Linked DNA regions of Homo sapiens: region 2 is linked to region 1. Evidence: fine-mapped expression QTL. A gene starts in region 1. The other region holds a variant in brackets. All regions are shown on one strand. Distances are between the middles of the regions.

Region 1 (5,341 bases):
GGAAATGCCTGGGGCACTCAACAGTGCGGGGATGATGACGTTTTCCACTGCGATGCCAGGTGGCGGCCCCTCGGAGGACAAGCGCTTCTCGGTGGTGGATATGGCGGCCCTGGGCGGGGTGCTGGGTGCGCTGCTGCTGCTGGCTCTCCTTGGCCTCGCCGTCCTTGTCCACAAGCACTATGGCCCCCGGCTCAAGTGCTGCTGTGGCAAAGCTCCGGTGAGGCCCAGGATGGAGAACAGGGCAGGCGACCAGGCAGGAAGTGGGGGACGGGGGACAGGAGAGGGGAGGGCAGAGGGACAGATGTGGAGACGGAGGGGTGTCCAGCGTGGAATGAGGGTGTGCAGGGCCAAGGCTGCAGAGACCCAGGGACCCCGCTGACGCCTCGACTCCCGCCTGCAGGAGCCCCAGCCCCAAGGCTTTGACAACCAGGCGTTCCTCCCTGACCACAAGGCCAACTGGGCGCCCGTCCCCAGCCCCACGCACGACCCCAAGCCCGCGGAGGCACCGATGCCCGCAGAGCCCGCACCCCCCGGCCCTGCCTCCCCAGGCGGTGCCCCTGAGCCCCCCGCAGCGGCCCGAGCTGGCGGAAGCCCCACGGCGGTGAGGTCCATCCTGACCAAGGAGCGGCGGCCGGAGGGCGGGTACAAGGCTGTCTGGTTTGGCGAGGACATCGGGACGGAGGCAGACGTGGTCGTTCTCAACGCGCCCACCCTGGACGTGGATGGCGCCAGTGACTCCGGCAGCGGCGATGAGGGCGAGGGCGCGGGGAGGGGTGGGGGTCCCTACGATGCGCCCGGTGGTGATGACTCCTACATCTAAGTGGCCCCTCCACCCTCTCCCCCAGCCGCACGGGCACTGGAGGTCTCGCTCCCCCAGCCTCCGACCCGAGGCAGAATAAAGCAAGGCTCCCGAAACCCAGGCCATGGCGTGGGGCAGGCGCGCGGGTCCATGGGGGTCCCATTCACTCAGTCCCCTGTCGTCATTAGCGCTTGAGCCCAGGTGTGCAGATGAGGCGGTGGGTCTGGCCACGCTGTCCCCACCCCAAGGCTGCAGCACTTCCCGTAAACCACCTGCAGTGCCCGCCGCCTTCCCGAGGCTCTGTGCCAGCTAGTCTGGGAAGTTCCTCTCCCGCTCTAACCACAGCCCGAGGGGGGCTCCCCTCCCCCGACCTGCACCGGAGATCTCAGGCACCCGGCTCATCTCAGACCTCCCGCTCCCGACCCTACACAGAGATTGCCTGGGGAGGCTGAGGAGCCGATGCAAACCCCCAAGGCGACGCACTTGGGAGCCGGTGGTCTCAAACACCTGCCGGGGGTCCTAGTCCCCTTCTGAAATCTACATGCTTGGGTTGGAGCGCAGCAGTAAACACCCTGCCCAGTGACCTGGACTGAGGCGCGCTGGGGGTGGGTGCGCCGTGTGGCCTGAGCAGGAGCCAGACCAGGAGGCCTAGGGGTGAGAGACACATTCCCCTCGCTGCTCCCAAAGCCAGAGCCCAGGCTGGGCGCCCATGCCCAGAACCATCAAGGGATCCCTTGCGGCTTGTCAGCACTTTCCCTAATGGAAATACACCATTAATTCCTTTCCAAATGTTTTAATTGTGAGAGTATCTGATATTCTTGACTGAACAATGTAAAAAACCCAAAGGGGGCTGCGCACGGCGGCTCTCGCCTAAATCCCAGCACTTTGGGAGGCCGAGGTGGGCAGATCACCTGAGGTCGGGAGTTCGACACCAGCCTGACCAACATAGAGAAACCCCGTCTCTACTAAAAATACAAAATTAGCCGGGCGTGGTGGTTCATGCCTGTAATCCCAGCTACTCGGGAGGCTTAGGTAGGAGAATCACTTGAACCCGGGAGGCGGAGGTTGTGGTGGGCCAAGATTGTGCCACCGCACTCCAGCCTGGGTAACAAAAGCGAAACTCCATCTCAAAAAAAGAAACGCAAACGGTGCAGCTGCCCCTTTTTCGAGGCACGTCCACCTCCCATTACCCACTTCCTTTTTTTTTTGAGACTGAGTCTTGCTCTGTCCCCTGGGCTGTAGTGGAGTGGCTCCATCTCGGCTCACTGCAGCCACTCCCAACGCCCTCCACTCCTCCCTACTCCGCGCTGGCCGGGGCGGGGTTCCGCTGGTCGCATCCAATAATAAGAACAGGCGGCGCGCGCCCTTCCCGGAAACTCCCGCCTGGCCACCATAAAAGCGCCGGCCCTCCGCTTCCCCGCGAGACGAAACTTCCCGTCCCGGCGGCTCTGGCACCCAGGTACTGGGGACCCCAGACCCACGCGGTGCAGGCCGGGAGCGAGAGCCTCCGTGGGGGCTCCGTGACCCCGGAGGGGTAGAGCCAAGAGCTGGGGGAGCCTGAGAGATGAGGGTCGGGCGGGGAGGGAGGCGGAGGCGGAGGCGGGGTTCCGCGGAGCTGAGAACCGGACGGGGTGGGATCGAGGAGGGTGCGAAGCGCCACTGTTTAGGTTTCGCTTTCCCGGGAGCCTGACCCGCCCCTGACGTCGCCTTTCCCGTCTCCGCAGGGTCCGGCCTGCGCCTTCCCGCCAGGCCTGGACACTGGTTCAACACCTGTGACTTCATGTGTGCGCGCCGGCCACACCTGCAGTCACACCTGTAGCCCCCTCTGCCAAGAGATCCATACCGAGGCAGCGTCGGTGGCTACAAGCCCTCAGTCCACACCTGTGGACACCTGTGACACCTGGCCACACGACCTGTGGCCGCGGCCTGGCGTCTGCTGCGACAGGAGCCCTTACCTCCCCTGTTATAACACCTGACCGCCACCTAACTGCCCCTGCAGAAGGAGCAATGGCCTTGGCTCCTGAGAGGTAAGAGCCCGGCCCACCCTCTCCAGATGCCAGTCCCCGAGCGCCCTGCAGCCGGCCCTGACTCTCCGCGGCCGGGCACCCGCAGGGCAGCCCCACGCGTGCTGTTCGGAGAGTGGCTCCTTGGAGAGATCAGCAGCGGCTGCTATGAGGGGCTGCAGTGGCTGGACGAGGCCCGCACCTGTTTCCGCGTGCCCTGGAAGCACTTCGCGCGCAAGGACCTGAGCGAGGCCGACGCGCGCATCTTCAAGGTGGGGACCCCAGCCCCGCCCCGCCCCGGGTGGGAGAGCCCGCCTAGGACCCCGCGGGCCCGGCACACGTGTTCTGTCCCCCTCTTCAGGCCTGGGCTGTGGCCCGCGGCAGGTGGCCGCCTAGCAGCAGGGGAGGTGGCCCGCCCCCCGAGGCTGAGACTGCGGAGCGCGCCGGCTGGAAAACCAACTTCCGCTGCGCACTGCGCAGCACGCGTCGCTTCGTGATGCTGCGGGATAACTCGGGGGACCCGGCCGACCCGCACAAGGTGTACGCGCTCAGCCGGGAGCTGTGCTGGCGAGGTGAGCGACGCCGGCTGCCAAGGGCGTTGGCATTCGTCCTGCTTGGGCAAAGGGGAACATTCTCTGGGTCAGATTTGTGGTTTTAGAAGCTGTTCTGGGAGAGGCTGCCAGCAGGCCCAGGACAGGTGGAGAGCCACATCCCCACCTCCTCAGGCCACAGCCTAAGGGTTCACAGCCAGGAAGCTGGTGGGGGCTACACCAGGCTCTCCTTGTATCTCTCACTCTGGTGTCGGGGCCTAACGCCTGCCCCATTCTCTCTCAGAAGGCCCAGGCACGGACCAGACTGAGGCAGAGGCCCCCGCAGCTGTCCCACCACCACAGGTACCCTTCTCTCTGCCTGCCTCTCCTCCTGCCAGGCCGCGGAGCTGCTTACGTTCACCCTGACTTTTCCCTGCAGGGTGGGCCCCCAGGGCCATTCCTGGCACACACACATGCTGGACTCCAAGCCCCAGGCCCCCTCCCTGCCCCAGCTGGTGACAAGGGGGACCTCCTGCTCCAGGCAGTGCAACAGAGCTGCCTGGCAGACCATCTGCTGACAGCGTCATGGGGGGCAGATCCAGTCCCAACCAAGGCTCCTGGAGAGGGACAAGAAGGGCTTCCCCTGACTGGGGCCTGTGCTGGAGGTGTGGGCGTGCCCGGGGAGGGGGGGAGCGCGGGAGGGGCCAGTGCACCTGGACGGACACTTTAGAAGGGGGCTGGGGATTGGGGAGCTGGAGAATTAGGAGGGGACCACCGTTCCCACTGTCCTCCCCTCCTCAGGCCCAGGGCTCCCTGCTGGGGAGCTGTACGGGTGGGCAGTAGAGACGACCCCCAGCCCCGGGCCCCAGCCCGCGGCACTAACGACAGGTGAGAGGGGTAGGGGTTGGGAGGCCTGGGGCACAGGGAGAGGCTAGGGATGAGGTGCCAGCACAGGATTCCCTTCCGGATGCAGGCGAGGCCGCGGCCCCAGAGTCCCCGCACCAGGCAGAGCCGTACCTGTCACCCTCCCCAAGCGCCTGCACCGCGGTGCAAGGTGAGTGCATCCCAGGAAGGGGCAGCCTGTCCCCGCCCACCCCCGTCACTCACGGCTTGTCCCCGCCCACCCATCACTCACATCCTGTCCCCGCCCACCCCCGTCACTCACATCCTGTCCCCGCCCACCCCCGTCACTCACAGCCTGTCCCCGCCCACCCCCGTCACTCACAGCTTGGTCTCCACACAGAGCCCAGCCCAGGGGCGCTGGACGTGACCATCATGTACAAGGGCCGCACGGTGCTGCAGAAGGTGGTGGGACACCCGAGCTGCACGTTCCTATACGGCCCCCCAGACCCAGCTGTCCGGGCCACAGACCCCCAGCAGGTAGCATTCCCCAGCCCTGCCGAGCTCCCGGACCAGAAGCAGCTGCGCTACACGGAGGAACTGCTGCGGCACGTGGCCCCTGGGTTGCACCTGGAGCTTCGGGGGCCACAGCTGTGGGCCCGGCGCATGGGCAAGTGCAAGGTGTACTGGGAGGTGGGCGGACCCCCAGGCTCCGCCAGCCCCTCCACCCCAGCCTGCCTGCTGCCTCGGAACTGTGACACCCCCATCTTCGACTTCAGAGTCTTCTTCCAAGGTCAGTGAGGCCCTTGCCTGGGGGGCTGTCTCCAGGGGTCCTTGGGAGCACCTGCCTGCCAGGTACTCAGCAGAGTCCCCTTCTTCAGAGCTGGTGGAATTCCGGGCACGGCAGCGCCGTGGCTCCCCACGCTATACCATCTACCTGGGCTTCGGGCAGGACCTGTCAGCTGGGAGGCCCAAGGAGAAGAGCCTGGTCCTGGTGAAGGTGAGACCAGAGCCTCAAGGAGGGGAGGCCATGTGCTCAGGCCCACTGACAGACGCCTGATGCCCTCAGAGCCTCGGAGAGGGGGAGGGGAGGCCATACACCGGGTCACTGACAGACGCCCGACGCCCTCAGAGCCTGGGGAGGGGGAGGGGAGGACACACGCCGGGTC
Region 2 (5,319 bases), 25 kb before region 1:
TGTGACCCTCACCCCGCCTGGCCCTTCCTGTGACCCTCAGCCCGCCTGGCCCTTCCTCTGACCCTCAGCCCGCCTGGCCCTTCCTCTGAGACTCTACAATGGCTTTTCATCCAACCCAGCAGGGTCTGCCATTGCCGCAAGGTGGAGGCATCTCAGAGGCCCTGCTTGGCCTTGCCCTGTCCAGGCAGGCGGGCCGTGGGTTGACCTCCATGAGACAGCAGGGCTGGGCCTGCTCCTTTGGGTTTTAACCAACATAAAGGTGGCAGGCAATTGAGGACCTGCACCTCTTAAGAATAATCCCCCAAAGCTGAGAACACCAGCATCTCTGCAGAGAGCACAGCTGCAGGAAGTAGCTGAACCCCTGCCTGGTGGGGGAGGCACCGTGGGAGCCCTCTGGCACAGTGACCCCCGCCAGCAGTGATGCCACCTGGCTTCCTGCGCCAGGCCCTGCAGGAATGGAGTGGGGGTATTCCCTGGAATTGTGGGGGCCACTTACTCTTCCCCAACTTTCCGTAAAACAGAAGCCAAGCACCACGCGTCTGTTGGGATCCCAGGTTTCCACAGCTCCTCCTTTCCAAGCCTGGGAGGCTGATGGTCAGAGGTCGCCCTGCCCCAGGGCTGTCAGCACCCCCAGGACCCCCAGATGCATGTGCACCTCCCATGGCCTCCAGCGCTGTCAGGCACGTGTGGGGCTGTGGGTCCTGGGACAAAGCTGGCGGGAGCCCCTCCTTCACTCTCACGGGTGTCTGAGAGGAATCCACTGTGACTCAGTCTGTTCCGGGGGTGACTGGGACAGGCTGGTCCTGGGAAGCAGGTAGTCGGAGAAGGTGTCCTGGAGGAGGCAGCCGCTGAGGCCATCACAGAAGTGCGTGGTCACCAGACGGGACGGGGCAGCCGCACTAAAGTAGTAATTGGGCTTGGTCCTCTCTCCACCCAATACTCGTTTTCTTTTCTTTTTTGAGACAGGGTCTCCGTCACCCAGGCCGGAGTGCAGTGGCACGATCTCGGCTCACTGCAGCTTTGACTCCCTAGCTTTAAGGGATCCTCCTGCCTCAGCCTCCCGAGTAGCTGGGATTACAGGCGTGACCACCACACCCAGCCTGCACTGAGTATTTTAGCAAGCTGAGGTTGTGCCCAATGCTGTAGACTGCACAGCCCACAGTCTGTCAGTGTTCAGATGGGAGCCTGGCACCCTGACTGGCCACCCTGGCTGCAAACGCCGAATCCCCAGCACAGGAAAGTTCCAGCCAGCACGATTGGGAGGCGGAGGGTCCCCCATTTCTCCCACAACCTGGGCCTGGGAGAGAGCTGGATCCAGTCCAGGGTAGGCTGTTCCTGCATGGAGGGCCCTGGGAGCCGCCCCTCTTCCCCCAGGGTCAGGGGCTGCACTGGTTGATGGAGCCAGGGTGCAGACAGGCAGCTTGGGTCGCTCTGCCCAGCCCCTGGCCCCGCTGCCGCCTCCCTGCTCCCACCCCTTGGCCCAGCCACATTGGTGGACGCTGGGCAGAGGTTGGCTGGGCACCAGGGGTGACTGAGCACGGAGCTCCCTCCAGGGAAGCCACTTGGTGGGGCCCCACCCATCACCACAGGCCCCTTGCTGTGGGGCTTGGGGCATCCTCTGGCCAGGGACTGGCAGGAAGCTAGGCTCTGGCCTCAAGGCAGCTTCTAAAATGACAGGTTGGGCTCCCCTGCCGGGGTCTGCTGGGGCAGCATGAGCCTGGAGCCCCCTGTGCCTGGTTCTCAGAGGTGGGAGTTGGCCCGGGCAGGGCCTGGCGGCTGACAGCCCCCCACCCCGCCTCTCCCCATTTGTTTCTTCCCATCGGAACTGGGCTTCCCCAGGAGACACCTTGCCCTGCTGGGTGCTGCTTCCTCTCCCCTGCAGAGAGGGGAAGCTGGGCCCCAGCGCTGC[G/C]GAACTGAGTGGCTCTCGGGGGCCCCTTCCCCCCTCACCCTGAGCAGGCGGCCGGCTTGGTGGGGTCTGCTCTGTGGGCTTCCTTGGCGGGGAGAAAGAGGTTAACTGGCTGGGGGGCCTGGGGCCACTGAGGCAGAAACCCCTCTTCCCCACTCCCCATCAGCCCCCAGGAGCCTTCACAGCTGAGTTTGGGAAGGAATTTGTTTAATTAACGTACAAAAGCGCCCTCCCCATCTCCTTGGTCCCTGAGGCCTGGCCATCAGGCCGGGGGGCGTCCGGGGGTGCCCGGCTCAGCAGCAGGCACGCAGGGCCTTGCGGAAGACGTTGCGGAACTCGGCGTTGAAGACAGTGTAGATGACGGGGTTGAGGGCGCTGTTGACGTAGCCCAGCCAGGTGACGGCGCTGACCAGCCGCGGGGGCACGGAGCAGGCAGGACACAGCGCCTGCGTGATGTGCACCACGAAGAAGGGCGTCCAGCACAGCAGGAAGGCCCCTGGGGGCGCCGAGAGCCGCGTTAGCGCCCCCCGCCCAGCCGGCCTCGTACCCCCCCCCTCCTCTCCTCCCCGCCCCTCAGGACAGGAACCCACCGACCACCACCGGCAGGACCCTCATGGCCTTGCGCTCCCGGCCGGTGATCTTGGCACGCCGCCTCCTGCGGGTCTGCGGTGGAGTCTGGGGTGGGAGCGCGGCGGCTCTGACGGCGTCGGGGGGAGCACAGTTGGAGCCGCAGGGGTCCGGGGGGAGGCCGGGCGCGGGGGGCGCACAGTCGGGGCCGCAGGGGTCCTGGGGGAGGCTGGGCGCGGCGGGCGCACAGTCGGGGCCGCAGGGACCCCGGGGAAGGCCGGGCGCGGGGGGCGCACAGTCGGGGCCGCAGGGGTCCTGGGGGAGGCGGGGCGCGGGTGGCGTGGGGGAAGGCGGGCCAGGGCCGCTGGGTCGGCGGGGCGCGCGGCCGTGCAGCTTGGCGCGACGTGCCACCTCCCAGCGCTGCAGGCCGCGGAACGTGGCCCAGTAGAGCAGCAGCATGAGCGGGCAGGGTAGGAAGAAGGAGCACACGGACGAGTAGACCACGTAGTCGCGGTCCTCCAGGCGGCACACGGCGGGGTCGCGGCCGCGCACGTCGTTGAGGCCGCACAGTACGGGCGCCGCCACCGCCGCGGACAGCAGCCACGTGGCGCCGATGAGCAGCAGCTGCCGGCGGCTCCCACCCTGCCGGTTGTAGCGCAGCGGCACGGCCACGGCCACGAACCTGCGGGGAGCGCCGAGGGGGCGCCGGACAGCGCACAGGCCGCGGTGAGGGCGGCGGGCGGGGCGCGGGGGCGCCGGGGCGCGGGCGGGGAGGGCGGCGCACCTGTCCACGCTGATGGCGCACAGGTTGAAGATGGAGGCGGTGCACAGCATGACGTCCATGGCCATGAGGGCGTCGCACAGGCGGGGGCTCAGCAGCCACGCGCCACCCTGGACCTGCGCGGCGACACCACAGGCCCTGAGGTTTCCCAGCCACCGCGGGCCCTTGTGACCCGCCCCCACTCTTATGGGTAGTTCCAGGGCTGAATACGGAGAAGGGGGCCCGGCTGTGAGCCAGAGGCCAGAGGACCGGGCAGGGAAACACCCCTTCCCCACGCAGATCTCCCTTTGTTTTGAGTTAGGGTCTCGCTGTGTCACCGCGGCTGGAGTGCTGTGGCTCCATCATGGCTCACTGTAGCCTGGAATTCCTGAGCTCAAGCGATCCTCCCACCTCAGTCTCCAGAGTAGCTGGGATTACAGCCGCGCGCCACCACCCCCGGCTGATTTGTTTTTCTTTTTGTTTTTTGAGACGGAGTTTCGCTCTTGTTGCCCAGGCTGGAGTGCAGTGGTGAGATCTCAACTCACTGCAACCTCCGCCTCCCAGGTTTAAGCGATTCTGCCGCCTCAGCTCCCCCGAATAGCTGGGACAACAGCCGCAGCCACCACCCCCGGCTGATATTTTAAAATTTTTTGTAGAGACCAGGCCTGGTATGTTTCCCAGGCTGGTCTCAAACTATCCTCCTGCCTTTGCCTCCCAAAGTCCTGGGATTACAGGCGTGAATCACGGCTTCTGGCCTTGGTCTCCCTTTTGTTACAAACATGAGAACGGCCTGGGGAATTCCCTGGGGGCGGGCCTGATATCATCGGGCTCAAAGGGAGCCCCTCCCCAGCCTGGGGTAGGCAGGGTCCCCGCTGGGCCTAGAAGCGAAGCTGGCTGCTCTGTTGGCTAAGTTCTCTGTGGGAGACTCGGGCACGTTAATTCATTTCTGTTTCTTCATCTGTAAGACAAGGGTGATGATAGTATCCACATCATAATTGTCTTGAAGATAAATTATAATTAAAAATATGAAGACCGTGCCCAGTGCCCAGCGTAGGACTCCACGTGGAGTGACTCTCTCCAAGGGCAAAGGAGCAGGCAGCCCCTCTAATCCTTCCCGCCGATTTGGGGAGATTAGGAGCTTAAACGTCGTCACTGTGACGTCTGCGGCTCGAAAGGAGCACAGGTCACGCGTGTCCCGTGCTGCTGGTCTCTGCCCCAGCCGCCTGGATTCACTGTGTCCATCAAGGGGAAACCTCGAGTCCCCCTCCCCCACAGTCGGGGACACCGCGTCTCCAGCTCAGCCCTAAGCTGCTTTTCTCTGGCCGCAGAGGGGCTGGCACCAAGGCCGACCCACTCGAGGGCCAGACCTGGTGTGGAGTGTGGGCTCCATCCCCCAATTCCCCCTCAGGCTTCCCCCCAGGGTTCTCAGCAGGGGCCTGGTCCCCACACACCCTCCCCTCCCCTGGGTTTTGTCCAGCCCAGGTCTCCCCTGCGAGCTGTGAGCCTCCTTCTGGGGGTGTGCCAGCATCTGCACTAGGTGTGTGTGGTGGGCAGTGGCTGTGGCAGTGTGTGTGTGTGTGTGTCCCACGGCAGCCAGGGGGCTGAGCCTGCATCTGCCTGTCTGTCCAGCTGGCTGCCCTGGAGGTGAAATCCAGCTACGGAGGGGACTGGGCTTGACAAAGTCGCCTGTTTCCGGGGTCCCTGGATAGAAGGACGGGCATCTCCTGGATAACAGACGCCAAGACAGACGGGGAAGGAGAAGAGGAACGAGGGTCGGGGGACAGACAGCGCAGCGGGTGGAAGGTCGCGAGGTGGCGGCGGTGGGTGTATCGCCGAGGGACAAGGCGCAGCGCCCCTGCCGCCGCCCCAGCTGGAAGCTCCGCACCAGAAAGGGGCCGGGTCGCGCCGGGTCCTCCGTAGGGACAGGGACGGGGAACCGAGGAGCAGGTGAGGATGCTCGTGCGGCCGGACGCGGCTCACCTCGGAGTAGACGAAGAGCGGCAGCACCAGGAGAGCGAGGAGGAGGTCGGCGGCCGCCAGGCTCACGATGAAGGAGTTGGTGGGCGTCTGCAGGGCGCGCTCGGTG

What was found.
Region 2: its variant is fine-mapped to the expression of IRF7 in whole blood (TOPMed, PIP above 0.99).

The regions. Positions count from the first base shown.
Region 1 is chr11:612,830-618,170 of GRCh38, reverse strand. IRF7 (interferon regulatory factor 7) reads left to right here and starts at 2,221. Exons shown (of 11, transcript NM_001572.5): 1 at 2,221-2,258; 2 at 2,524-2,826; 3 at 2,912-3,074; 4 at 3,164-3,374; 5 at 3,637-3,695; 6 at 3,772-3,997; 7 at 4,134-4,220; 8 at 4,306-4,386; 9 at 4,576-4,965; 10 at 5,054-5,172. The coding sequence starts at 2,807. It overlaps CDHR5 (cadherin related family member 5), which reads left to right. Exons shown (of 15, transcript NM_021924.5): 14 at 60-217; 15 at 401-1,588. The coding sequence ends at 820. RefSeq lists enhancers at 2,765-3,359, 3,954-4,548, 5,143-5,341.
Region 2 is chr11:637,484-642,802 of GRCh38, reverse strand. It overlaps DRD4 (dopamine receptor D4), which reads right to left. Exons shown (of 4, transcript NM_000797.4): 1 at 5,214-5,319; 2 at 3,258-3,370; 3 at 2,497-3,155; 4 at 2,097-2,402. The coding sequence ends at 2,200. Among named protein-coding and RNA genes, the nearest start is that of DRD4, 2.9 kb to the right of the region's middle. RefSeq lists a silencer at 1-154 and enhancers at 1-537, 1,387-1,998, 1,999-2,610, 2,976-3,509, 3,510-4,044 and 3 more. The variant G/C (reference allele first, on the strand shown) is at 1,910.